Linked DNA regions of Homo sapiens. The protein of the gene in region 3 interacts with the protein of the main gene of each other region in a pairwise test. Each region holds a gene or a part of one and is shown on either strand. Other genes may lie near its edges.

Region 1 (3,500 bases), on a different chromosome or scaffold from region 3:
GCCTCCCGAGTAGCTGGGACTACAGGCACCCGCCACCAAGCCCGGCTACTTTTTTGTATTTTTTTTAGTAGAGACGGGGTTTCAACATGTTAGCCAGGATGGTCTCTATCTCCTGACCTCGTGATCTGCCCGCCTCGGCCTCCCAAAGTGCTGGAATTACAGGTGTGAGCCACCACGCCTGGCCCCAGCCCTACATGATTTCTAAACTGTGTTTATGAATATATACACACATACGTATGGTATATGATCAGTATAACTGTGATTATTAAAAATATGAAATAGGAGCTAGGCTTGCCTAATATCTGAGGAAAACTAGACGAAAAAGACCCTGAAACAAAAGCAAAACAAAAAAATTCCTTTATACATTGTGTTTTGAATGATTGGAGTAGCTCAGAACTGCCTGTGAACAAGGGCAAAAGTGGAAGTTAGCCTTGGATTTAGAGAAAGTTGCTGTGATCTCTCTGCCCATCCCCCCAACCACAACCACTCTCCAATCCAAAGCAGAGTGCATCTTCATTTCACTTTGGGTAGTCAATGAAAATGACAGCTGAAAAAAATGTGTAAGTAGTAGGCTGGCCTGCTCTGATGCTATCCCTGGAAGTATTTTGGCCAAGTGACTAAGAGAGGTTAAGAATTTGTCAGTGACTATTGTCTTTAAGGATAAGCAATCTGCCAAGAGTTCTCTGAATTTCTTGTAGAGTTTTGTTTAAAGTTGGAATTAGGTAAATGTCATACACTTTGTTACACAGCCTCAAAAGGCAGTGTATTTCAGTGGATTAAGTAGAAGCTTGAAAAATGATGGTGACTCACTTGGAGTTACTTTTCATTATGTCTGTTTATTACTTTACTTGCCATCTATGAAATAGGGCTGAGGCTAGCAGATACATTTTTTTTTTTAATTTTTTTATTTTTGGCTGGGGTAGAGATGGGGTTTCACTATGTTGCCTAGGCTAGTCTCAAACTCCTGTACTCAAGTGATTCTCCTGCCTTGGCCTCCCAAAGTGCTTGGATTACAGGCATGAGCTACCATGCCCAGCCAGAAGAAGAATCTTTTTCTTGACTCTGTTGGGAGTTGAGAGCTTTATAAGTTGGAAATCAAAGGATTTTAGAATGACAAGGGTCAATTTTGTTTAGTTTAGTTTTTGACTAGAAAATTGAGGCCACGGAAGGGTGATGATAGGAATTTGGGAAAGTCATGTGGTTATTTAATGGTGGACCCTGGACTGGACCTCTAATCTGTTGCTGTCTACTTAGGCAACAGTTTTCCTTTTTCCCCACCGACACCTTTCCCCCATGTCACTTCCTTAGCTAAACAATGAACTTAATGGGAAACAGAGCCTGGACATCTAAGAAGCTTTAAAAAAGCCTTTTGTCATTTTCTCAGGTAAGATTATTCCTAGGTATATGATGTAATCACTTTCTGCAACCTCCTGAAGGCACCTTTCCTGAGCATTCACAGCTTTCCTGTGGTGTTCAGGTGTCCTGTGGTATTCAGATATTCCTTTAGAGTAACAATGACTAGGGCATGGTGGTGCCCACCTGCAGCCACTACCACCCCCACCCCATCTCTAAATAAAAAGTTTTTAAAAATTAGAGTAACAGTGAAGCAGATTGAATGTTAAAACACCTAGCCTCTGAAAACCACTGTGTTCATTCATTATTCCTGCTGTCCTCTCAATCTCATGAATCAGGCTGGGGTGTTGGGCAACCTGGCACACTGACTGAATACTGATCACATTAAATTTTTAAAAGGTCTCTGATTATAAATAGAATACATGCTTTCTATACATAAACCAGAAAATGGGGAATTATAAAGAAGAAAGTTATCTAGCTTCAGTAGAATTTCCCATCTTTACTCTTTCGCAAACATTCTTGTAAAAATCTTTCATTTGAGTAACGTGATTTTATAAGAAAAAAGATTTTATCCTCCTCTTAAATACAATTCAGACTATAACATTTGGCTGCCACGTCTCATTTTTAGTGACAATTTTAGTGTTTTGCCTTTTCTCAAATGTGTGACAGAAAATTATTTTTGTCCAAGTGATCCATGCACTTGGTAACAAATCCAATATACAGGAGGACATTTGTTGAAAAACAATGGTTTCCTTCACCTCCTCAAGGCTCACAGAGGGCAACTTTTAATTTTTTTCAACTGTACCCATATTTAATTCTTAGATTGTTACCTTCTTAAGCTTAAGTAATGTGCTTTTACCACCATGTTTTGATTTATCAACTTTTAGCACCTGATATGAAAGTGAGAATGTAGCTCTTTAAGCTAGTTTTCTTTTTTCTCTCCCAGGTTTGATGTTTATAATATTTTAAATTTGTCTGTTAGGTCACCTTTTTTAAATAATCATCTTTTTTTTTTTTTTTTTTTTTTTTTTTTTTTTTTTTTTTTTTTTTTTGAGATGGGGTCTGTCTCTGTCACCCAGGCTAGAGTGCAGTGGGAATCATAGCTCACTGAAGCCTCAAATTCCTGGGCTCAAGTGATCCTCCCACCTCAGCTTCCTGAGTAACTACGACTATAGGTTTGCACCACCATATTTGGCTAATTTATTTAACTTTTTTGTAGAGACAGGGTTTCCTATGCTGCCCAGGCTGGTCTCAAACTCCTGGCCTCAAGCAATCCTCCCACCGGCTTCCTAAAGCACTAGGATTACAGGTGTGAGCCACCACACCTGGCTTTTTCAACTTTGGATAGTATTTCTTGATTCCTTATGCTGTATGTCAGTAATGTTTGGATTGCTACCAGTTCTACTGTTCACTTTTTGACAATGTTGCTTTCCACATTGCCAAAGCCCTGAACCCATAACCTGTATTTGTGCTTTGCCCCAAAGTTGACCATCTTATTCGTATATGATTCTTAAAGTTGAAAATCCATAAGGCCGGGCGCAGTGGCTCATGCCTGTAATCCCAGCACTTTGGGAGGCCGAGGCGGGCGGATCACGAGGTCAGGAGATGGAGATCATCCTGGCTAACACCGTGAAACCCCGTCTCTACTAAAAAATACAAAAAAAAAAAAAAAAAAAAAAATTAGCCGGGCGTGGCAGCGGGCGCCTGTAGTCCTACTCAGGAGGCTGAGGCAGGAGAATGGTGTGAACCCCGGAGGCGGAGCTTGCAGTGAGCCGAGATCGCGCCACTGCACTCCAGCCTGGGCAACAGAGCCAGACTCCATCTCAAAAAAAAAAAAAAAAAAGAAAATCCATAGGCAACATTTACATGACTACAATTCTGTGAAATGATTCATTGCCTTGTGTGTCAGGATTGGATTTTAGACTTGCACTGTGGGTCTGGTTTTAGGATTCCTGGGCCAATCAAAGGATGAGATATCTAGCCCCAAAGTCAAATGGGATTTTTTGTTTTCTCACTCTTCATCAGTTGTTTAAATTTGTGTTACCTTTTAGTTTTTTCATATTTGGACCATGACTTTCTTAAATTTTTTCCCTAGTATTTCTGATTGCCTTTTAATGTGTTCATGCATTATTTGCCATTATTATGAT
Region 2 (3,500 bases), on a different chromosome or scaffold from region 3:
TTATATATATACATACACATATATTAAATGCATATTATTGTTTAGAATTCCAAAAACTACACTTAGATCACAAAGATTATAAAACCCTATTTTTTCCTCATCTAACACTTAAACCTTCTCTACATTCACTGGGTGGGAAGGAGCAAGATTTTTACTCTAAGCACTAGAATTTGTATTTTTAAAAAATCAGAAATAAGCACAAAGCATAATGGCAACATTGAATAAAACAGAAAGAACTAGCTATTGAATCTACAGTTGTGATTCTATTCTGAAGTCTTGAACTCCATTAAGACTCTTTCAAAATTCTCCTAAGAAAATGCATGTAAGCATATATTTTATACCTAATTTGCAGGGTGAGGGATTTATTGATCTCTTAAAACTGATCCATGAACAATGCAGGATTGGAATCCTATTTTTGGAATCTTTGGCTAACAGAAAGAAAACAAGCAAAGATATGAGTGAAACTGATCAAATTAGCCAGACTAGTTCCTGAAACAGACTGACTTCATTTAAGATTAACAAGGCTCCTCTCCTACTTCTTTTCTTCTTGAATAAAAGCAATCTGTAGACAACAATAAGGTTCTGCAAATAAGTTATGGTAGCACTTAAGTCAGGAATTGGGGAGGAGGGGAAAAATAGGCAAATTAACCACTATAAATGGAGTAATAAAATAGCTTAATTTTAACATGTAAAAATGGCTTTTGCGTTAATCAATCTCTTTACTTTCCAGTGCTATTCCTGAAAATTAAGGCTTTAAAATAAGACCATCTTGCTGTAGATGCTATAATTTAAGAAAATAATATGCCTAACACTTAAAAATCTTACTTGTTAAAGCATAATTTGGGTTTTCTACTTCCATCCGTTGCATCTGAGCACTCAAAAATACTTTAATATCTATCCCTTTGGCAAAGGATGATGAATTAAAAAATCTGGAAGGAATTTTAGAAGCAATATCTGGTTCATCACGTCCAAATCCAAGATTATAAAGAATTTCTTCAGGATCTTCCTCATAAAGTTCCAACAATTCTGAAACACTACAAAAAAAGGGGGCAAAAAAGGAAACATGAAAATATAAAATAAATTGATAGTCCACACCACATTATAAATGAATACATATTACTGATTTCCTGTGATAAAATCTTTTTTCTCAGCTTCTGCTCTGGAAACCATTATTTATTTTACCATGTTTACACATGTGTACTGGGGAATAAATAGCCCTTATAAAGGGTTCATTGTCTCAAGTTGCTAGAGTTGCAGAAAAGAGCTAACCCCAACGAACACAGTCAGAGATTCCCTACGTGATTCCTCACCTTATTTGTTTTGTCATTTTAAGAGATTCCCTGTAAAGCAGCTAAAACAAGTAGAAGACAGATGATGAAGAATAAGGAATGAACAGATTAAAGCAGAAATTAAAAGGAACTGAGGGACATTTTGTGAAATTTGAGCTTTTCTGTTATCCTTGTCCTAGGAGTGGCAATTGTCCTAGGAGGAACAATAAAGATAACAAGCTGATTTCAGAGAAGCGAGGGAGGAGCTTACTTTCAACTTCTCTCCAACCACTTCCACTCAGGAAGTAGGAGGAGTAAGGTACAGAGAGTGTGGGTTACACAAAGGTAACTACTCTAATCCTATTGGGAATTAAATATTTAGTATCCCTTCTCTCTCATACCAGTGATAATCCAAGCTTTCTAAGACTCACTGAAGAAAACAGGAAAGTTAGAGATGGAACTTCAACAGAGAGACATTTCAATTTGTTTCAGACAAAATGCTCAGATTCTAATATTATAATTTGGATAACAGTTTAAACTGGATTCCATAGGCACATGCACTGATGTATTTTAATATACTATATGTGCGGGCGGGAGAGGGGCAAGGGTATTTTTCTGTTTGGCTTTTTTGAGACAGCGTCTCACTCTGTCAGCCAAGTTGAAATGGAGTGGCACAATTATAGCTCACTGCAGCCTCAACCTCCTGGGTACCACTTCAGCCTTCCAAGTGGTTGTGACTACAGGTGGATCCCACCATACCCAGCTAATTTTTGCATTTTTTGTAAAGACAGGGTTTCGCCGTTTCCCCATATTGCTCAGGCTGGTCTTGAATTCCTAAGCTCAAGTAATCCACCCACTTTGACACTCCAAAGCACTGGGATTACCGGTGTCAGCCACTGGGCCTGGCTATACTATATATTTGAAAGATCTTTGGTTTAATGTGTTGAAAAAAAGTATGCTTAAATATCAAGCTGTAACTTAGAAAAATTTATTCTGATTTTTGTGTCAGAGTTAACTCAAGTCCTTAACAATGAATTTTGGTTCTCTACAACTACAAGTTACTCCGCTATGGAGTTCCTCTTTCAGGCTGTTGAGAGGGCTCAAAATACTCATTTATGGGTTCCAGCAGCAGTATAAGCCTATTTATTGCATTTTATTTAATCTCAAAGTAAAACAAAACAAAACAAAACAAAACAAAAAGCTCCTATCAGTTGTGCTGGTACAGGAAACGCTCTTTTTGTGTTCTTTCTGATTTCATATGATCAAGGTCAAATCCAAGATTGAAAAAATGATAAGAGTAGGTCATCTATAGCACAATGTAATTCCAACACAATTTCAGAATAAGTTACCTTGAAACTGTCCCACTACTTTTCCCAGATCCAGTGGAATTCATACTTCTCCCTTTCTGATGAAACTGTAATCTTCTCTCTTTGGCCAAGATATTATTGCTACGAACAAAATCAGATTATATAAAACTTTATAACTTTATTTTCATTAAAGGTCTTCATTTTTTAAAAGAAATAGAACAAAACAGCTACATACCAGTTTTCAATTTGAGCATCACTTTCATGGAGGTGGTTGGCTACAGGTAAAAACAATAAACGTAGAGCACAATTGTTAGTAGGACTATAACTACTATGATACAATTATCAAGAAATCTAATTACCTACAATATTAGAATTAAATGCCAAATATATTAAACACTTATCTTGGTCCATTAAATCTGCATTATTAAAAGTGATATACAGATAGATAAGAACAGGGCCAGGAGCTTTTGAAGGGTGTTTTTGTGTTGTGGCAACATGAAACTAACTACTCTCACTTGAGTGCTTAAAATAAAAAAACGTATAGGGAACCAGTTAAATTTCTTTAACAGGTTAGAAATAAGTAATGAGGAAGATATGTACCATATATGTGGTACTAATTATTAAATTTAAAAGCTATTAATGAATAATATCTTAAGAGGAAAACATGATTTAACATTAAGTGTGGCAATAGTATATGTCAGTTTCTAATGTGAATTTTTTTTAAGGTTATAACTGATTTTTCACACATATAACATGAAAATTTCTACTTATTTCAATATAAACTTTCTTTTAAAAATTGCCTTTCAACTTTATGATAGAACTTTAGCTTAAAGTTCTAAACAGGTAAGTGTTAATGTTTAAAGTTAAATTTATAGACAAATACAAAGAATAAAATTAATTATAAACACATCTATTTCAGCACACA
Region 3 (3,500 bases):
GGTGTGCTGCTGTGATCTGGTGCTGCTTTGACCTTGAAAGCAGGATAACGCATGCACTTACTTACCCCCGCATTACTTGGGTACCTTAAGGACTAGTGGTTCACAACTTACTTTAGGAGCTTTTATTTATTCTGTAACACGTGAGATCTGGTAAGACAGTGGGGGGTAAGGAAAACAGACAAGACCATGACTCTTCTTTCCCTCTTCCCCAAAACGTGCCTCTTGGAATAATCTTCAGTGTGCCCTCCAGCAGAGCCGAAATCAGGCAGGCATAGACTCCCTCCTCTCTCATCAAACCGCAGAAATAGAGTTCCTTCATCATAACCGCAAAGCTTCCTCCTCCCCTTTGCACCCTGCCTCAGCTGCATTTTCTTGTCGCTTCTACATGGGAGTGCTTGCTGTTCTGGGAAGAGTGGGGAGAAGCGGTGGGAATCCTTGAGCCAATTGAAACTGAGGTCATCTTCAGGAAAACCATGTCTTCCTGAAGTTGAAAGATTCAGGCACACCATACAGTCCTTTCCTCATGAATAATCTTGTTCTTTACTCATGGGAAATTGGGAGAGGTTAACCCCTCCCAAGTTTATGTTTGCAAATTCATGTTTATGGGTCCAGGTGAAAAACTTTTCTGAACACAGCATGCTACTTCTCTTATTACCTCTCTCTATTTAAAGAATGGCTAGGCTGAGCATGGTGGCTCACACCTGTAATCCCAGCACTTTGGGAGGCTGACATGGCAGGATTGCCTGAGCCCAGCAGTTCATGACTAAGCAACATATGGAGATTCTGTCTATATAAAAAAGTAAAAAATTAACTGGGTGTGGAAGTGCATACGTCTAGTCCCAAGCTACTTGGGAGGCTGAGGCAGGAGGAGTTGGAGGCTGCAGTGAGACGTGATTGTGCCGCTGTATCCAGCCTGGGTGACAGAAAAAGAAGAGACCCTTCCTTTAAAAAAAAAAAAAAGCCGGGCGTGGTGGCTCACGTCTGTAATCCCAGCACTTTGGGAGGCCAAGGCGGGCGGATCACCTGAGGTCAGGAGTTCTTGAGACCAGCCTGGCCAACACGGCAAAACCCTGTCTCTACTAAAATACAAAAATTAACTGGGCATGGTGGTGCACACCTACAATCCCAGCTACTCTGGAGGCTGAGACAGGAGAATCGCTTGAACCCAGGAGGCAGGGGTTGCAGTTAGGTAGGATCGTACCACTGCACTCCAGCCTGAGTAATAGAGTGAGACTCCATCTCAAAAAAAAAAAAAAAGGCTAAAGAATGTGGCAGTGTCCAATGGTTTGGAAACCCACCTTCTCCTTATCCTTAGCCAAGCATCTTTTCCTACTCCTACTTTAACCGTGCCCAATGCACAAGAAAACCTCTTTTTCCCTGCATTCTGCAAAATTCCAGAGCAACTAGCCTTGCTGATTGTATCACACCTCCATCAGCAACGTGATGCTGGGAATAGCGTACTGGCGAGCAGTTCCAATACTCTTAGGTGCTTTGTGAATGGACTGAAAGAGGCCCCTGCCTGTGTACCTACCGTCATCCTGAGTTGTTCAGCCTTAGCAGCAGCTACTGAAGAGAAACTGTTTTCATCACCCTATTATACCAAAACAAATGGCTAAACAAAACCTTGGAATCTTCCCTCTTGCATGGCTTCCCAGTTCATCCTCTTCTCATTCTGTGGCTTGCCATTCATCATCCCGTGAAGTTTTCCCTCTTCCTGAAATTGTAACCTAGGCTTCTTTTAATGCTCGTATTCTGTTGCTTATAATAGGAACCAGCAGCACAAACACTGTTGGGGCAACAGTGAACAGCCAAGCCGCCCAAGCTCAGCCTCCTGCCATGACGTCCAGCAGGAAGGGCACATTCACAGATGACTTGCACAAGTTGGTAGACAATTGGGCCCGAGATGCCATGAATCTCTCAGGCAGGAGAGGAAGCAAAGGGCACATGAATTACGAGGTAAGTCTCTCTTTTGCCGCAGAGAATCCGTAACACACATCTGAGTCAAGGTGATAGAAACAACTAAGCTGCTGCTTAACGTCTTACGCCACGACCTTCTTCAATTTTAATACTTTAGAAAAACAAGGCAAAAATCCCCCAGGTACCCTTTTATTTTTCCTTCCCTGAATTCCTAACCTCTTGTTGGTCAGCTCAACTTTTTCTTCTTCGTTTTTCCTTCGTCATCCTCAACTACACACACACAGACACACACGCACATGACATCCCTCCCTCTCATGAGGATTATTTTCACCCTTACTTGGTAAATATAAAGAGCCAATAAATACTACAGAAGACTGTTCTGCTGTATCTTACAGGATTATACTAGAAGTATATGTTAGCGCCACACATTTTATACCATGGCCCACACCAGACTTGACACGTGGTGGTTTTGTTTTCAGGGCCCTGGAATGGCAAGGAAGTTCTCTGCACCTGGGCAACTGTGCATCTCCATGACCTCGAACCTGGGTGGCTCTGCCCCCATCTCTGCAGCATCAGCTACCTCTCTAGGTCACTTCACCAAGTCTATGTGCCCCCCACAGCAGTATGGCTTTCCAGCTACCCCATTTGGCGCTCAATGGAGTGGGACGGGTGGCCCAGCACCACAGCCACTTGGCCAGTTCCAACCTGTGGGAACTGCCTCCTTGCAGAATTTCAACATCAGCAATTTGCAGAAATCCATCAGCAACCCCCCAGGCTCCAACCTGCGGACCACTTAGACCTAGAGACATTAACTGAATAGATCTGGGGGCAGGAGATGGAATGCTGAGGGGGTGGGTGGGGGTGGGAAGTAGCCTATATACTAACTACTAGTGCTGCATTTAACTGGTTATTTCTTGCCAGAGGGGAATGTTTTTAATACTGCATTGAGCCCTCAGAATGGAGAGTCTCCCCCGCTCCAGTTATTGGAATGGGAGAGGAAGGAAAGAACAGCTTTTTTGTCAAGGGGCAGCTTCAGACCATGCTTTCCTGTTTATCTATACTCAGTAATGAGGATGAGGGCTAGGAAAGTCTTGTTCATAAGGAAGCTGGAGAACTCAATGTAAAATCAAACCCATCTGTAATTTCGAGTGGGTGGAGCTCTTGCTTTTGGTACATGCCCTGAATCCCTCACTCCCTCAAGAATCCGAACCACAGGACAAAAACCACCTACTGGGCTCTCTCCTACCCTGCCCTCCTCCCTTTTTTTTACCCCTCTCTTTTTTATTTTTTCTTTGCTCTTTAGAACCCAGTGAAAAATACCAGGGTACTGGGGTGCAACTCTTTCTTATGATAGGTCATTAGTGCTTTAAGCAAAAGATATTAGCAGCTTTGACTGCAGCATTAGCAATTAGGAAAAAAAAAAAATTAAGTTCCCTGCGGACATGTAACTTTGCCATCAGTTTTGATGTGGAAACACTGTGATATATAAAATGTTGTTGGACAACAGTAGTTTTAAGAGTAAAATATGAAACGTTTAAAAAGTTCCAAAAAAAGCTAGCTCTGTCCTTTACTTATTGAGACAC
Region 4 (3,500 bases), on a different chromosome or scaffold from region 3:
TGTGCACACATCTCATGGCAGCACAGAGGGAGGTGGGAGACACTGGGTATGGCAGGGAGATTGGGTAGTCAGGATTCTTATTCAAATTCCAAAGTCCTTCCCAGCCATTTGTCTTGAGACTCCAAGACTCAAGCTCAATTTCCACCTACTTAAGTGGCAAATATTGAGTGAGAATAAATTGAGATGCCCTGCCCAAGGGGACTTGCAGTCTACCAAGGGGACAAGTCTAACAACAAGCACACAACAGTACAATGGTGTACACGCTATAACTGAGGGATGACATCATGAGGGAAGGGCCCCAATGAGGGAGTGGCTGCTGCCTGTGAAAGAGCCAATCCTGGAGCTCAGTGTGGAAGATGGTGAAGTAGGGGGCAGGCACCGGAGGAAGTGCGTTCTAGAAGGAACAACATGCAAAGACATGAGCTCCTGAAAGGAGGTGGTGCATTTGGAGGACACTGAGAAGCTCCAAGGGGCCCCAGCAGAGGATAGAGAGTGAAAACGTGGGATGGGCTTGTGGTGGGCTGTGGCCAGATGGGAACAGCCGCTCTGAGGACCTTTGCATTTATCTAAAAGGTTTTATCAGGAAAGCCATCCAGTTGTTTTCTAACCTTGTTCTTATTTAAATTATGACGTGAAACCTCTACCAACTCTCGCCCACAACCCCCAACCTGTAGCACATGAACATATGAGCATGAATATACATGTTATGTTAACGGTTGCGTGTATAGCTGTGTTAGCTCTTTGTGTTTTGGTTCATGTTTTCATGTGTATTTCCCCCATACAATCTTCCCATTTTCCCTGAAAACTCCACCAGAGTTTAGCCTGGTCCTTTTCACCTGCCTTTTTTTTTTTTTTTTTTTTTTTGAGACAAGGTCTTGCTCTGTTGTCCAGACTGGACTGCAGTGGTGCAATCATAACTCACTGCAGCCTCAACCTCCTGGGCTTCAGTGATCTCCTGCTTCAGTCTCCTGGGTAGTTGGGACCACAAGTGTGTACCACCACAACAGGGTAATTTTTAAATTTTTTGTAGAGACGGGGTCTCACTTTGTTGCCCAGGCTGGTCTTGAACTCCTGGGCTCAAGCAATCCACCTGCCTTGGCCTCACAAGGTGCTGGGATTATAGGTGTGAGCTACCATGTTCAGCCTTCACCTGCATTTTTTAATTCAATGAAAACGATGCAATTATTATTATTATGAACCCAAAGACTTTTAATCCTTTCCTCTGTTGACACTCAAAGCTTCGTTTTATACATCTGTGAAGAGCAGGATGTTCCATGTATGTGTGTGTGCATGCATGTGTGTGTGTATCCTCTGGTGACATAATGTATAATATATAATACTTATTGTATTCCTGACTGTGAATTAAGGATATCTTTTTATCGAAGTGTTATAGAATTAACAAACATTATAATAAACTAAGACTGAGAACCTTTCAAATAGAAGTAGCTCTAGTAAAATTCATTGAAATCCTTTTGAGTTCCTTGAATGCCAATTTTTTGTTTGTTTGTTTTTGAGATGGAGTTTGCTGCTGCCCAGGCTGGAGTGCAATGGCACCATCTTGGCTAACTGCAACCTCTGCCTCCTGGGTTCAAGTGATCCTCTCACCTCAGCCTCCCAAGTAGCTGGGACTACATGCACATGCCTCCATTCCTGGCTAATTTTTGTATTTTTTAGTAGAGGCAGGGTTTGACCATGTTGGCCAGGCTGGTCTTGAATGCCTGAGCTCAAGCGATCCACCCACCTCAGCCTCCCAAAGTGCTGGGATTACAGGCGTGAGCCACCATGCTGGGCCGAATGCCAGTTTTTGAAAGGCTTAAACTTGTTTAAAATCTTGTTACCATGGATATCTTTGCCACAATGGAGAAAAATCACAGCACAAAAACAGGGATCATTAGAAGAGAAGGACAAACTGCGTCTCTATCAAAGTTACATGCACGACCAAGTGTCCCGCCCCAAGGACAGTACAGCTGTAACCATACCCAGTGAGCAAGACAGAGAAGATAAAACAAGAGACATGCTAAGTCACACATGCCACAAGCCCCAGAAGTCAAGCACTCCATACCCGGGCAGGCCACACTCACATAGAGCTCTAGCACGGCCTTGGGACTCGGCCTGAGGGAGGGCAGGTCACTGAAGGAGCGGCTGCGGTGCAGCTTGGCAAAGAAAGTGTCTTGCAAGGCACTCAAGACAGACAGCCGCCTGGGCTTGTCTGGGGAAGGATGCAGCCACCTCTTCAGAAGTGAAAGCAAGATGGGGGAGTTAGTGGGAAGAATCAGGTTACTACATTTTGTTAGCTTTTTAGCAAGCATTTTTGATTAAAACAAGGAGGCTATTATTTATATGCACTTCTTTAAAAGGCTGATCTTAGAGAATGTTCAGAAAAATCTACATGTTACCATCACAGCAATAGGTAAGGTGGGCAAGGAGAGAGGAAAAACAGAGGAGGCTCACCACCTCTGATAGAATTACTAACTCCCAGCACTGTCTCTTAAGCATTTCAAATGCTGGGTGCAAGCACTGGCTCAGGTGCATTGATTCTACTCGGGAAATTACACTGAACTTACAAAGAAGGAGTGGTCTTTGAAGGTGGGCGTTTCCGGGGTACCCTGGCTGTACATGGACATTCTCCTCTGAAGGGCTGCTGCCTTGTTCCCAGCGCCTGAGGATGCGGTCATGTCCTCCACGTCAAATGGACTGCAAAACAACAGGTCCCCAGGTATGCACATTTGGCAAAATCACCTATCATCAACAGACCACAGGCTAAGAGAGTACCTCATTATATAAAGGTAAACTCAACCAGAGGTTCAGAACTGGGCTGGTTTTAGCTAAACTGCTTTGCAGAAAATAAACCTGGATAAAAGAAAAGTGGAGCAGAAAACTGAGTCTAGACTCACCCAAGGGACCCCAGAATATTATCACAGCTCTAAGCACAATTTAGCTATACACTTAGATACACCCGTTCCTCATTAACATTAGAAACACAAATTTATGAATGCTTGCTTCGACAAAACAAGATGTTGAAAAGTCTATAAAAATTATCTGAACTTTGCGGGGCTAGATACCTTAATGGTATAAGACATCGACAGACTATTGTTCCATTCTAAAGAAAACACTCAAAAATAGAATCCCATTCATTTCAGTTGACACAGAGCCTCTTGTGTGGGAAGAGAATAACAGTCTGTTCACAATGATGCCACTTAACATCATGGCACCCGATTCATCCAGCAAGAAGAATGATCTTGCATGTGAGACATCAATGACTGCAGATTGTGGGGAGGGAAGGGCTGAGCAAAGCATGCTGATGATGACAAAGCAAGAGTGTCTTTGCTGCTTCTACACCTGGCTTTCCATATTGTAAATGAGACCCTGAGCATGAATACTCAACATGTCATATTTACTTGGCAATATACCGGGGGCATTACATTAAATGTTGTGAACTACTAGTGGTTTTTGTTTTTTTGGAGATGGAGTTTTGCTCTTGTTGCCCAGGCTGGAGTGCA
Region 5 (3,500 bases), on a different chromosome or scaffold from region 3:
GCCTTGGTCCCCTGGAGAAAAAGGGAGTCCAGCTCCTGCCTCAACCCCTACCTCTGTTTAGCAACCCTTGCGCCTGCCTCAGAGCCTGACCTGGCTCCTTCCCCACAGTTTAGCCTGTGGGGCCCTTGGATGACCCCCCCCCCCGCCCACCCCCGCCTGGGACCTGGGACATAGGACAAACACTCCAGCCTGTTCTCTGTCCCACTTCCTGCCTGGCTGCCTGCCCTCCCCAGGGTGCCTTGGGCAGGCCTGGCCACTTTCCCCTCCCTGGGAGCAGAGTCATCTTCTCCAGGGCCTACTGGGAACAGGCCTGAGAAGGGGCAGCAAGGCCTGAGGGCTGGGGTATCTTGTCCAGGGCCAGCTCAGCTGAGGGCAACCCACATTCCTCCTGATCTCTTCCCACACAGTGACTCAGCAGCCTACCACCCCACCCCCATTCAGGCACAGCCGCATCTCCCTCCCTTGGCCTGGAAGATTCTGGGACCCTAGAAGAACACACCTACCCCAGAGCCACCCCCGTCAGGGATCCCCTCGAATCACACACATATAGAACAGCTCATTCTTTGAACATTCATGACCAGGCTGGTTTCAGATGCAGAGGACCTAGGAGGAATTAGACACTGCCTCTGCCTTCCCTTCCTTCCAGCCCAGTGGGGCAGACGGGAAGACAGACAGACGAGTCAGAAAAAGCTCACAAATGAATGTGGAATCACAACTTTCACAGTGCTAAGAAAGGGGAGGGGCAGAGTGCTATAAAGATAAACGGGAAGGGAAAACATGTTACACCTGGTAACTGCTTACACACCCAGGTATAAGGTTGGGTATGCACTGGCCAACACAGGCTGAAGCAGCACAGACCCAGAAAGGTCAGGCCCACCACGCTGTCCTGCCTCCTTGCATGCTGTAATCCCAAGAGAGCAGAGAATGTCCCTCTCCTTCCAGGACACCTGCATCCATTTGGGGAAGGGTCCTGAAGGTTAAATAGTCCACCTTCTTTTTTTTTTTGATATGGAGTCTTGCTCTGTCTCCCAAGTTGGAGTGTAGTGGCACAGTCTTGGCTCACTGCAACCTCTGCCTCCTGGGTTCAAGCAATTCTCCTACCTCAGCCTCCTGAGTAGCTAAGGTTACAGGCGTGCATCACCATGCCTGGCTAATTTTTGTATTTTTAGTAGAGACAGGGTTTCAGCATGTCATCCAGGCTGGTCTTGAACTCCTGACCTCAAGTGATCCACTTGCCTCTGCCTCTCAAAGTGCTGGGATTGTAGGTGTGAGCCACTGTGCCCGGCCAATGGTCCACATTCTCTAGCCTCCTCAGCCACTTCACCTGTCCAATCCTGCCAGGGCCCCATTTCTGGGGAGGAGGTCCAGGGAAACAGGTAGTCCAGTGCCTTCCAGGACAGTGTCTCCCCACCCCCAGCTGTCTGTCCTGGGTGGAAGTGTGGGGTGGTAGGCTAGAGTCAGGCAAGCAGCAAAGAGCAGGAGACTTCCTGCTAGCAGGATGGCACATGTCCCTCACACCCCGGCCCCTTCCTGGGGTCACCCTTCTGAGAGCCAAACCTCTGGGCCTTGTTTCTCACACCCTGGGGCTGGGCCAGGCCTGAATAAGCCCAAACCCTGGTCCTTGCTGACGGGGCTTAAGCTCAGCACGTAGTATGGGCCCACTTCCCTGACACCTTCTTGGCTCTTGTCTTCCTCACTTCTCTGGTCTCTGTCTTGGGGTGGAGTCTTTCCCCCATTCTTCCCAGGCTCAGCTTCTCACATTGGCCTCCAGCCCACTATACTCTTGACTTTCCAGGCTCAGGCTTTTCTGGCAGCCCAAAACCAACTGGTTATGTATGGTTTTATATGCAGGGTCAAGCCCAGGGGACCATGGCATCTACTTCTCTCTCTCTTTCTAGCTATCTATCTACCTATGTATAATATATAGATATAGATCTATAATATATAGATGTCTATAGATATTGATAATTTATATATATAGCTATGTATCTATTATATATATCTAGACATCTATTACATATATCTATTATATATTTTATAAATATACATTTTTCCCGCTTGTTTCTTTAGACTGTCTTACCCAATATTTTTAATAACAGTGTAATCAGGTAAGACTGAACATACCAGAGCAGGGTACAGGGAAGATGGAAAAGAGGCAGGATTATAGGCTGAAGGGCTTTCATTTTAGAAAATAATTGGTTAACTGCCTCTTTTGTCTCCTTTCCTATAAACACAGGACCCTGTGTTCTGAAGACCCTCCTTTCCTGTTATCGCAGGTCTCCAACTAGAGTGTGACTTCCTGAATGAGATGACAAGGATGGGCCTTGGGGAGGGAAATCCACTTTTGTTATCTTATGCTTCCTCTGTGCCAGGCACCGGACTGCCTCTTTTTTTTCTTTTCTTTTTTTTTTTAATAGAAATAGGGTCTCGCTATATCACCCACACTGTTCTTGAACTCCTGGCCTCAAGCAATCCTCTGGCCTTGGCTTCCCAAAGTGCTGAGATTACAGGCATGAGCCACCATGCCCAGCCTGAGCCGCCTATTTAATTTGATTCTACCAATAATCCTTTTACAGATAGGGAAACCAAGAATCAGAAAATCAGCGCATTGCCCCAGGGTGCACAGCCAGGAGCCAGGGCTAATTGACCAAATCTTGGGCGGATGGGCCCTGGAAATGCTCCAAGGAACCCTAGAGGGGAAGTGGAGTGAGGGCTGGGGCCAGAAGGATTGCCAAGAGCTGAAGACATCCTCTTAGTTTTCTGGACTCTGCAAATACCCCATACTGGTCCTCCCAGTTCCAGTAAGGGAACACCAATAGACACACGCACCCCATGCAAGTTAGGATAATAGTATCTACCTCTGCCAGGACCTAGGTGTCAGGGTCCCTCACCAGTCTGCAGCTCAGCCACTCTGTTCCAGAATGACCAGCAGATTGGATAGTCCAGCCCCAGGGGAGGCTAGGAGGAGACCAGGACTCATGCCCACACCTCAGTTTTCTACAGTCTCCCAAAGGCTCCTGAGATGTAAAAAGGCTAGAGTGGGTTGGGGTAGGGTCAGGAAACATTCCAGGACAGTGCCACCCCTGTCCTACTCTGATTTTTAGCCACAGCTAGGGAAACAAAGTTGCTAGTAATGACCAGATTTCTAGGGCTATCCCCACTGTCAGGAGGAGAGGGCTTTCCTGGCCTTTGCAGCAGGGTCAGAGAAGCACCCCAGATCCCCCTACCCGGAGCTCAGGGAGAAGTCAGTGCTATACCAGGTGTGGTAGGGCCTTGGGTATCGGAGAGGCTCCTGAGACACTTCCCAGAAGGGAGGGTAGAACTGGGAGGCTCTAGATTAGGAGATGAGATGCAAGGCCAGAGGGACACATTCTCCCCTCTGGCAAAGGCAGGTCTGGGCTGGGGGAATATTTTGGAGGGGAGGAAGGCACTCCTGAGTTCCCCCAGGGACACTAGGCCCGGCCCAAGACACTGTCAAGCTCCCTTCCACCAACCAGGGC
Region 6 (3,500 bases), on a different chromosome or scaffold from region 3:
TGGCAGTGGTCTCTGTACAAACCCCTGAGCAGGAGGTTGGCATAAGTCACTTAGGAAGCAGGACTGTGGCTCGGTTCTCACAAGCGGCTGTACCCTGAGCAGCTGAGGGCTGGCGATATGGAGCCCCACCAGGCAGGAATTCCCCCGGGGCAGCTGGCTCTTTCTTGCAGTTTGGGGCTGGATTGTGGTCGGTAGGAGCATTGGCCTTTCCTGACCTTTTGTTTCTCCAGACGTTACCTTGACACAAATGGCTTCTAGTTGCTTACGTACAGAAAGACAAGAAAGAGAAAAGAAGCATTGTGCTTATGAACATGTCTGCAATTTCAGTCTCGTCATAAAACCATTATTGACATTTTTTCTAAATTACATCTTACATATAAAAGTTGATGTAATGTGTTTGTACTAAGGTGGTATTTTCCAGACCTTTCTGACCAGAGACCACAGTGATATAAGCTGGGCTTGGTGGCTCACACTTGTAATCCCAGCACTTTGGGAGGCCAAGGCAGGCCGATTACTTGAGGTCAGGAGTTCGAGACCAACCTGGCCAACATGGTGAAACCCCATCTCTACTAAAAATACAAAAATGAGCTGGGCGTGGTGATGCACTCCTGTAGTCCCAGCTACTCAGGAGGCTGAGGCATGAGAATCGCTTGAACCCGGGAGGAGGTTGCAGTAAGCTGAGATCGCACCACTGCACTCCAGCCTGGGCAACAGAGTGAGACTCCATCTGAAAAAAACAAAAACAAAAACAGAGACCACAATGATACATTTTACATTATGACCTAGTACACGTGTATATAAATATCTGCATACATAAATAAAATAAAGTTGATGGAACTACTTACCATCCCTATATAAATGCCCGCTGATTGTATCTATTCTACATCATTTTTTTTTTTTTTTTCTGAGATTAGGGTCTCACTCTGTCACCCAGGCTAGAGTGCAGTGGTGCGATCTCAGTTCACTGTAACCTCTGCCTCCCAGTTTCAGCGATTCTCTCATCTCAGCCTCCGGAGTAGCTGCCACCACACCCAGCTAATTTTTGTATTTTTTGGTAGAGACGGGTTTCACCATGTTGGCCAGGCTGGTCTCAAATTCCTGACGTCAAGTGATTGATCCACCTGCCTTGGCCTCCCGAAGTGCTGGGATTTCCAGCGTGAGACACCACGCCCAGCCCTATTCTACATCACTTTTTAAAAAATACTAGTCATAATCCACTAAGTTGATTTCATGACCAGTGAAGAGATAAGAGCCTTCCTAACAGTTTTACCCATGTGAGGTTTTTCTTTTTCTTTTGAGACGGACCCTTGCTCTGTCGCCCAGGCTGGAGTGGAGCGACACTATCTTGGCTCACTGCGACCTCCGCCTCCCGAGTTCAAGCAATTTTCCTGCCTCAGTCTCCCAAGTATCTGGGATTACAGGCACGTACCACCACGCCCCGGCTAATTTTTGTATTTTTAGTAGAGACAGGGTTTCACCATTCAGGCTGGTCTCGAAATCCTGACCTCTGGCGATCCACCTGCCTCACCACACCCGGCTGGCTTTTTGTTTGTTTGTTTTTTTGAGATGGAGTCTCGTTCTGTCGCCCAGGCTGGAGTGCCACCACAACCTCCACTTCCCAGGTTCAAATGATTCTCCTGCCTCAGCCTACTGAATAGCTGGGATCACAGGTGTGTGCCACCATGACCAGCTAATTTTTTTTTAAGATGAAGTCTCGCTCTGTGGTCCAGGCTGGAATGCAGTGGCGCTATCTCAGCTCAGTGCAACCTCTGCCTCTCAGGTTCAAGCAATTCTCCTGCCTCAGCCTCCTGAGTAGCCCTGATTACAGGCGCTTGCCACCACACCTGGCTAATTTTTGTATTTTTAGTAGAGACGGGGTTTCACCATGTTGGTCAGGGTGGTCTCAAACTCCTGACCTCATGATCTGTCCGCCTCAGCCTCCCAAAGTGCTGAGATTACAGGCATGAACCACCGTGCCCGGCGTTACCCATGTGTTTTTGCTTGGAGTTTTTAGTACTCTAAAAGCAGACGTAATTCATAATGTGGGCCCATGTTTTTTAAAAAGTTTTTAATGAAATTCTGGAAGCGACAACAAAGCCATAAGGAACAATGTTACCCAGCTTCCTACTGCACAACCTGCATGCCTGTTTCTTCACCCTGTCCTGAATGTGCTGTTTAGCATTCTTATGATTTTAAAAATTTATGTGGCATATGCAGATATTTCTAAAAATATATAGTTCAGTTCTGAAATGTTTTTAAACTTTATATAAATGATATCATCTCCTGCAACTTGAAAGGGCTTTTCTGGGTTTCTTTACTTCATTTTGCTTCGTGAATTTTATCCACATTAACATGGGTAGGTGTCACGGGTTCATTTTCTCTGCAGTATGAGTACACCAGTCTCCTATTGATGGACAGGTGGTTTCCAACCTTCTGTTCCTAAGTTCTGCTCTGAATCTTCACGATGTATGTGTATACATGTGTGACTTTCTCCAGGGGCATGTACCTAGGCGTAGGGCTGAGTATCTTCAATAACTTTTTACAAATATATCTAACAAAATTTCAAATACATGTGCTTTTTGACCCAGTAATTCCATTTCCTGGATTCTATAAAAAAAACACGCAGGTGGCCACAAAGATGTTCTGTTCTACGAAGTTCAGGGCAGCACTGTCTATAATAGCAAAACACCTACCAAAGGGGAGAACTACCTTCAATAACACCCCACAAATATTTATTGAGCACTGACCGCGTGCCAGAAACACTGTTACAGGTGTCAGGGAAACAGCTGTCTTACAGCTTAGGGGAGAAGGACGGGGAAGCAAAAGAAACAAGGCTCCCGCCCTCACAGAGCAGAAATAATGAGCACTTTCCTCCAGGGAGAAAAAGAGGCAAACCTCATCATCCAGAGCACGATTTCCCAACCAACATTTCAGAACATAATCCTTTGACATGGGTGGCTGGAGGATGGCCAGCAGCATCTCTGCCTCTACCCACTAGATGCCAGTAGTGATCCCGAGTCCTGACAATGAAGACATTGCCAAGTGCCCCCTGTGGGGCAAAACTGCCCTCGGTTGAGAATCACTTATTTGGGACGACCAACTGGCCCTCTTTGGACTCAACCTTCTGGTGTGACCCTCAAACAGTGGAGCATCAACAAAAATGTCACACAGGACAGAATAAAGATCCTCACTGAGATCAAGCTGGAGTGTGTCTCTCGTCTGTCTGTTATACTAGTACAAATAGCAGAGGTCAGCCAACACTTTGTATGAAGAATTGTAGAGAGGTGGCACCATAGCCCTGGGAGTCCCCGACTCCTGGGCTACTTGTGAAACAAATGACAACGAGATTGACTGCGCATATCCTTCAAGAACCCCATCTCTTTCATTTTACTGCCAGTCACACCTGTAATCGCAGTGCTTTGGGATGCTGAGGCGGGAGGACTGCTTGAGGCCAGGAGTTCAGGGCCAGCCTGGGTAACATAGCGGGACCCTGTCTCTAC
Region 7 (3,500 bases), on a different chromosome or scaffold from region 3:
GTACACTGCTATGAAGGCTGCTGAATGTGAGAGGGTTGATTCAGTCACAGGGACCTCTCAGTCTCTGAGGAGAGATAAAATCTATATTTCTCTCGTTTGTGTTAAAAGATGGGGGATGTCAAAAAAATATCAAGACAAGCTTCATGACTACATACAATTGTGGTTTTAGTGGTGAAAATGCTAGATATCCAAAGAGGGCAAAACCTAAGGGACAACCAAATAGAATAATCCATCTCCAAACCGGTAATGCTAGGTGAGAAATGGATATTTCATCTCACTGAACATTCCACATTTTATAGTCAAACAAGTAACATTATTTCCTCCAAATATAATTGGAATAAAGTCATGCCCATGAAGATATGTAAATAATAGATTTGTTGTAGAGATAAGGCTAATTACATCATAATCTCCAAAATGTGGTTAGCACGCTTCAAAATTTTTAAATTTTAGAAGCATAAGTGTAGGCTTTTCCTTCTATGTGACTGGATGAAAGATACATTTCTATCAAAATCTAAAACAAGACATTACATATGTGTAATTTTTCTTAACTATACAAATAACAAAGTCTTTGAACCTTATTACTTGAGTTTCTATGACTCAGGACTCAAGATTTGAAAAGAAATTCCTAAATACAGAGAAAGTGTCATACACCAGAGAAGACTGAAAAGGCAAGACAACTGAGTGCAATGTGGTACCCTGACTTGGATCCTGGGACAGAAAAGGATATTGATGGAACTGGTGAAATCCCATTAAAGCCTCTAGTTTAGATAATAAGAAAAACAAACAAACAAATTAACTAGTTCTGAAGATTATACATGATTGTGCATGATCTGATTTTTGTAAGCATACAATAAAAATATGTCCGTCAATAAAACAAATACCTATAAAATGATCAAAGAATGAACAAACTTAGATGACATCAAGTGTCCACCAATTTAGTAGATTTCATAATAAATTAGAGGGGTGAAAATTTAAGGAAGAGGCTTGAATGATATCCATTAGGGACATTTTCTTGCAAAGCAAATCCCAAAGGCAAGGGCATGAACTTATGATCTATTACCAGCCAGAGTTCAGAACTGTGAATAGAAAAGGAATTTACTTTCAGCTTTCAACCAGATTAGACAGTACCTTTTCCATGCAGACATTCTGGACCATTTACTCTGACCTATAACTGCACATTTTACATTTGCACTTTGTTTCCTTACCCTCCTTCAAATATTTTAATTCGGATTGGCTCAGTTTGTTTGGATCCAATATCTTTATCTCCATGAATATCTCCTTTCCCTCTTTCCTTTAAGATATTTCCCACTAGTTTCCTTTCTAGTTTGCTGCCAAATAAAAAGGACGCATCAGGTTTCATCTGTAAGACAAGAAGAGAGAATCATTTCACATGCTTTCTCCAAGACACAGGAGCCCCTATGTCCCACTCTTCCATCATCTCTGAAAATGAGCCTAAATTCTGTACTAAAAGGCCAGGAACTAGTTATATAAAATAAGGACCACTAGGGATAAAATCAGATAAGAATGACAGTTTCCACTGAATAAATTCAACATTCTGTTACAGCTATATATAATAAGTACATATATTATATATAAAAATATATAGATACACATATACACTCAGCACTCTGTGCAATGCTAATACTTAAAAGACACATTCTATGTTTTGAAGTAGCAATGAAAACAATCTATATTAATTAAGGAAGTAGTCTCAAAAATTATTGAAGGGAAAATGGTAACTGATAAAAGTGAAAACATATTTTTAAATCCTCTATTTGCCTCCTTATTAATTTAGCAGAAATTTCAAAATTCCCCTTAATATTTTTATAATTTTACATGGAAGGCATTGATGGTTCTTGTAGGAATAAACCAGCCAGCAACTTGGAAAAATAAGTTTTGAAGGAGACAGATGTCTCGTCAATGAGAGTAAGCCCTGCAGCATTTGCAAAGCTCGGTCCTCCTTCTTCGTCTTTCCTTTCAGCCTCCATTCCCTGCTCTATGGCCCACTTCACAATTCCCTGAATTCCTCACATCCAGAGAAAATTAGACCTGCTAGGTCACTCACAAAGGTCAGAAGGAAAATAACCCATGGGAATTAATCCCAGTGGTAGGATTTCATGGCACCCAAATTTTTAAATTTTAAAAGCATAAATGTAGGCTTTTTCTTCTGAAAATGGACCATGCCTGAGACCTCAGAACCAAGTGCAGTCAGTGGCTTCTTCCACTCCTGAGTAAGGCCAGACTTTCTGAAAACGCCCCCACACTGACCTTCATTTTACTTGTATTTTTTTTTTAGGCCTTATATCCTTCACTATGTAGTCTGCTCAGCAATCAAATCCACAATACAAAGTTCTTCCTAAAACAGTATTTGTTACCTGAGTAAACTGCTTCCAAGCACTTGATGATGTAAGCTTGCCGGTTCCAGGCCTATGCATAGCAGCCAGAGTATAAATTTCTGCAGTGATTTTTTGCTTGGACCTCAGAAGAGCCAGCGTGGTCTTGGTGTTCAATCCTGATGGGTTTGGATTACAGGAACTAATGCACCATGAAGCATAAACCGAGGATTTGAAGGTGGCCTGTTGCACATAATTGGGTTTTGTATAATTCAAGAAGCACCAACTCACAGTAGTTGTTGTCCGCAGACTGGGGAACTGAAGAATCTGCTGGAAATCTGCCATGTCCGTGAGAAGAAGAGTTGAGTCTGCCACGTTCCCGCTGGGGGCAGAGGCCATGCGGACCAGCATGCCAACAGGCCGCTTGTGGCCCTTCCCTTCCTCTTCCAGCTGACCATCTCCTGCTGGTAATGAAGAACTCTGTGGGCTCATGCTCATGTCCGATGCCGTCTCATCGATATCTAATTCATCTGAAGATTCTTTGCTTTCAGAAGGCCCACTGGACTTCTGCCCCGGAAGTGGTGCCCGGGAACCGGAAAGCATCTCCTTGCTGGGCAGGAATGGCTCCCTGGAAGACGGGCTAACAGAAGGATAGTCTTGAGATGAGGAGGGCGACAGCGAGGAGAAGGAAGATGACCCTGACTGCAAGCCATCTTTTGGCTCAGAAGCACATCCTTGTCGAACCAGCTGGGGTTTCTGGGGGCGGGAGAGGTCCTTTTTGATGTCTGAGTTGGTCAGCTCCACAGCACTAAGCTCCTCCACAATCTGTCCGTACATCTTTTCTTCTTTGACCCTTTTCTGCTGCTTGGTTTCCATGAAGAGCTCCAAGCTACTGGCTGGAGAAAGCATTCGCTTGCTACCTCCCAGGGTGGCCACGCTGTCAGAGGTGGAAGGTAAACACAAGGGGATGGAGGATTCTAAGCCGAGGGGCAAAGTCTGAGGTGCTTTCCAAATGGGGTACTTCTCCAAGCCCGCATGCTGCCCCAGCACCTGGGCAATGTTGAATCCTATCCCTTGCATGGCTGCGTTGGTGACCAGTGTCCTTTGGGTCATATTCTCATCGACTTTGCATATGACAATGGCAGGGCTATTCTGCCCAAGTATCTG

Evidence for each region.
Region 1: the proteins of WNK1 (region 3) and WWTR1 interact in a two-hybrid assay, tested with the Homo sapiens proteins (one large-scale study listed by IntAct).
Region 2: the proteins of WNK1 (region 3) and ITPRID2 interact in a two-hybrid assay, tested with the Homo sapiens proteins (one large-scale study listed by IntAct).
Region 4: the proteins of WNK1 (region 3) and RIPOR2 interact in a two-hybrid assay, tested with the Homo sapiens proteins (one large-scale study listed by IntAct).
Region 5: the proteins of WNK1 (region 3) and FHOD1 interact in a two-hybrid assay, tested with the Homo sapiens proteins (one large-scale study listed by IntAct).
Region 6: the proteins of WNK1 (region 3) and ZNF839 interact in a two-hybrid assay, tested with the Homo sapiens proteins (one large-scale study listed by IntAct).
Region 7: the proteins of WNK1 (region 3) and HIVEP2 interact in a two-hybrid assay, tested with the Homo sapiens proteins (one large-scale study listed by IntAct).

What each region holds. Positions count from the first base shown.
Region 1 is NC_000003.12:149,651,526-149,655,025, reverse strand, and holds part of WWTR1 (WW domain-containing transcription regulator protein 1), read left to right. Parts: intron 1-3,052; exon of another isoform or gene 3,053-3,500. UniProt on the Homo sapiens protein: Transcriptional coactivator which acts as a downstream regulatory target in the Hippo signaling pathway that plays a pivotal role in organ size control and tumor suppression by restricting proliferation and promoting apoptosis.
Region 2 is NC_000002.12:181,898,230-181,901,729, reverse strand, and holds part of ITPRID2 (protein ITPRID2), read right to left. Parts: intron 2,851-3,500; coding exon 2,811-2,850; intron 2,717-2,810; coding exon 2,618-2,716; intron 1,035-2,617; coding exon 826-1,034; intron 1-825.
Region 3 is NC_000012.12:906,079-909,578, forward strand, and holds part of WNK1 (serine/threonine-protein kinase WNK1), read left to right. Parts: intron 1-1,768; coding exon 1,769-1,956; intron 1,957-2,396; coding exon 2,397-2,714; 3' UTR 2,715-3,500. UniProt on the Homo sapiens protein: Serine/threonine-protein kinase component of the WNK1-SPAK/OSR1 kinase cascade, which acts as a key regulator of blood pressure and regulatory volume increase by promoting ion influx.
Region 4 is NC_000006.12:24,845,461-24,848,960, forward strand, and holds part of RIPOR2 (rho family-interacting cell polarization regulator 2), read right to left. Parts: intron 2,695-3,500; coding exon 2,565-2,694; intron 2,232-2,564; coding exon of another isoform or gene 2,082-2,231; intron 1-2,081. UniProt on the Homo sapiens protein: Acts as an inhibitor of the small GTPase RHOA and plays several roles in the regulation of myoblast and hair cell differentiation, lymphocyte T proliferation and neutrophil polarization.
Region 5 is NC_000016.10:67,240,982-67,244,481, forward strand, and holds part of FHOD1 (FH1/FH2 domain-containing protein 1), read right to left. Parts: intron 1-3,500. UniProt on the Homo sapiens protein: Required for the assembly of F-actin structures, such as stress fibers. Depends on the Rho-ROCK cascade for its activity. Contributes to the coordination of microtubules with actin fibers and plays a role in cell elongation.
Region 6 is NC_000014.9:102,322,746-102,326,245, reverse strand, and holds part of ZNF839 (zinc finger protein 839), read right to left. Parts: exon of another isoform or gene 3,482-3,500; coding exon of another isoform or gene 3,404-3,481; intron 728-3,403; exon of another isoform or gene 565-727; coding exon of another isoform or gene 541-564; intron 262-540; coding exon 1-261.
Region 7 is NC_000006.12:142,767,177-142,770,676, forward strand, and holds part of HIVEP2 (transcription factor HIVEP2), read right to left. Parts: coding exon 2,376-3,500; intron 1,361-2,375; coding exon 1,206-1,360; intron 1-1,205.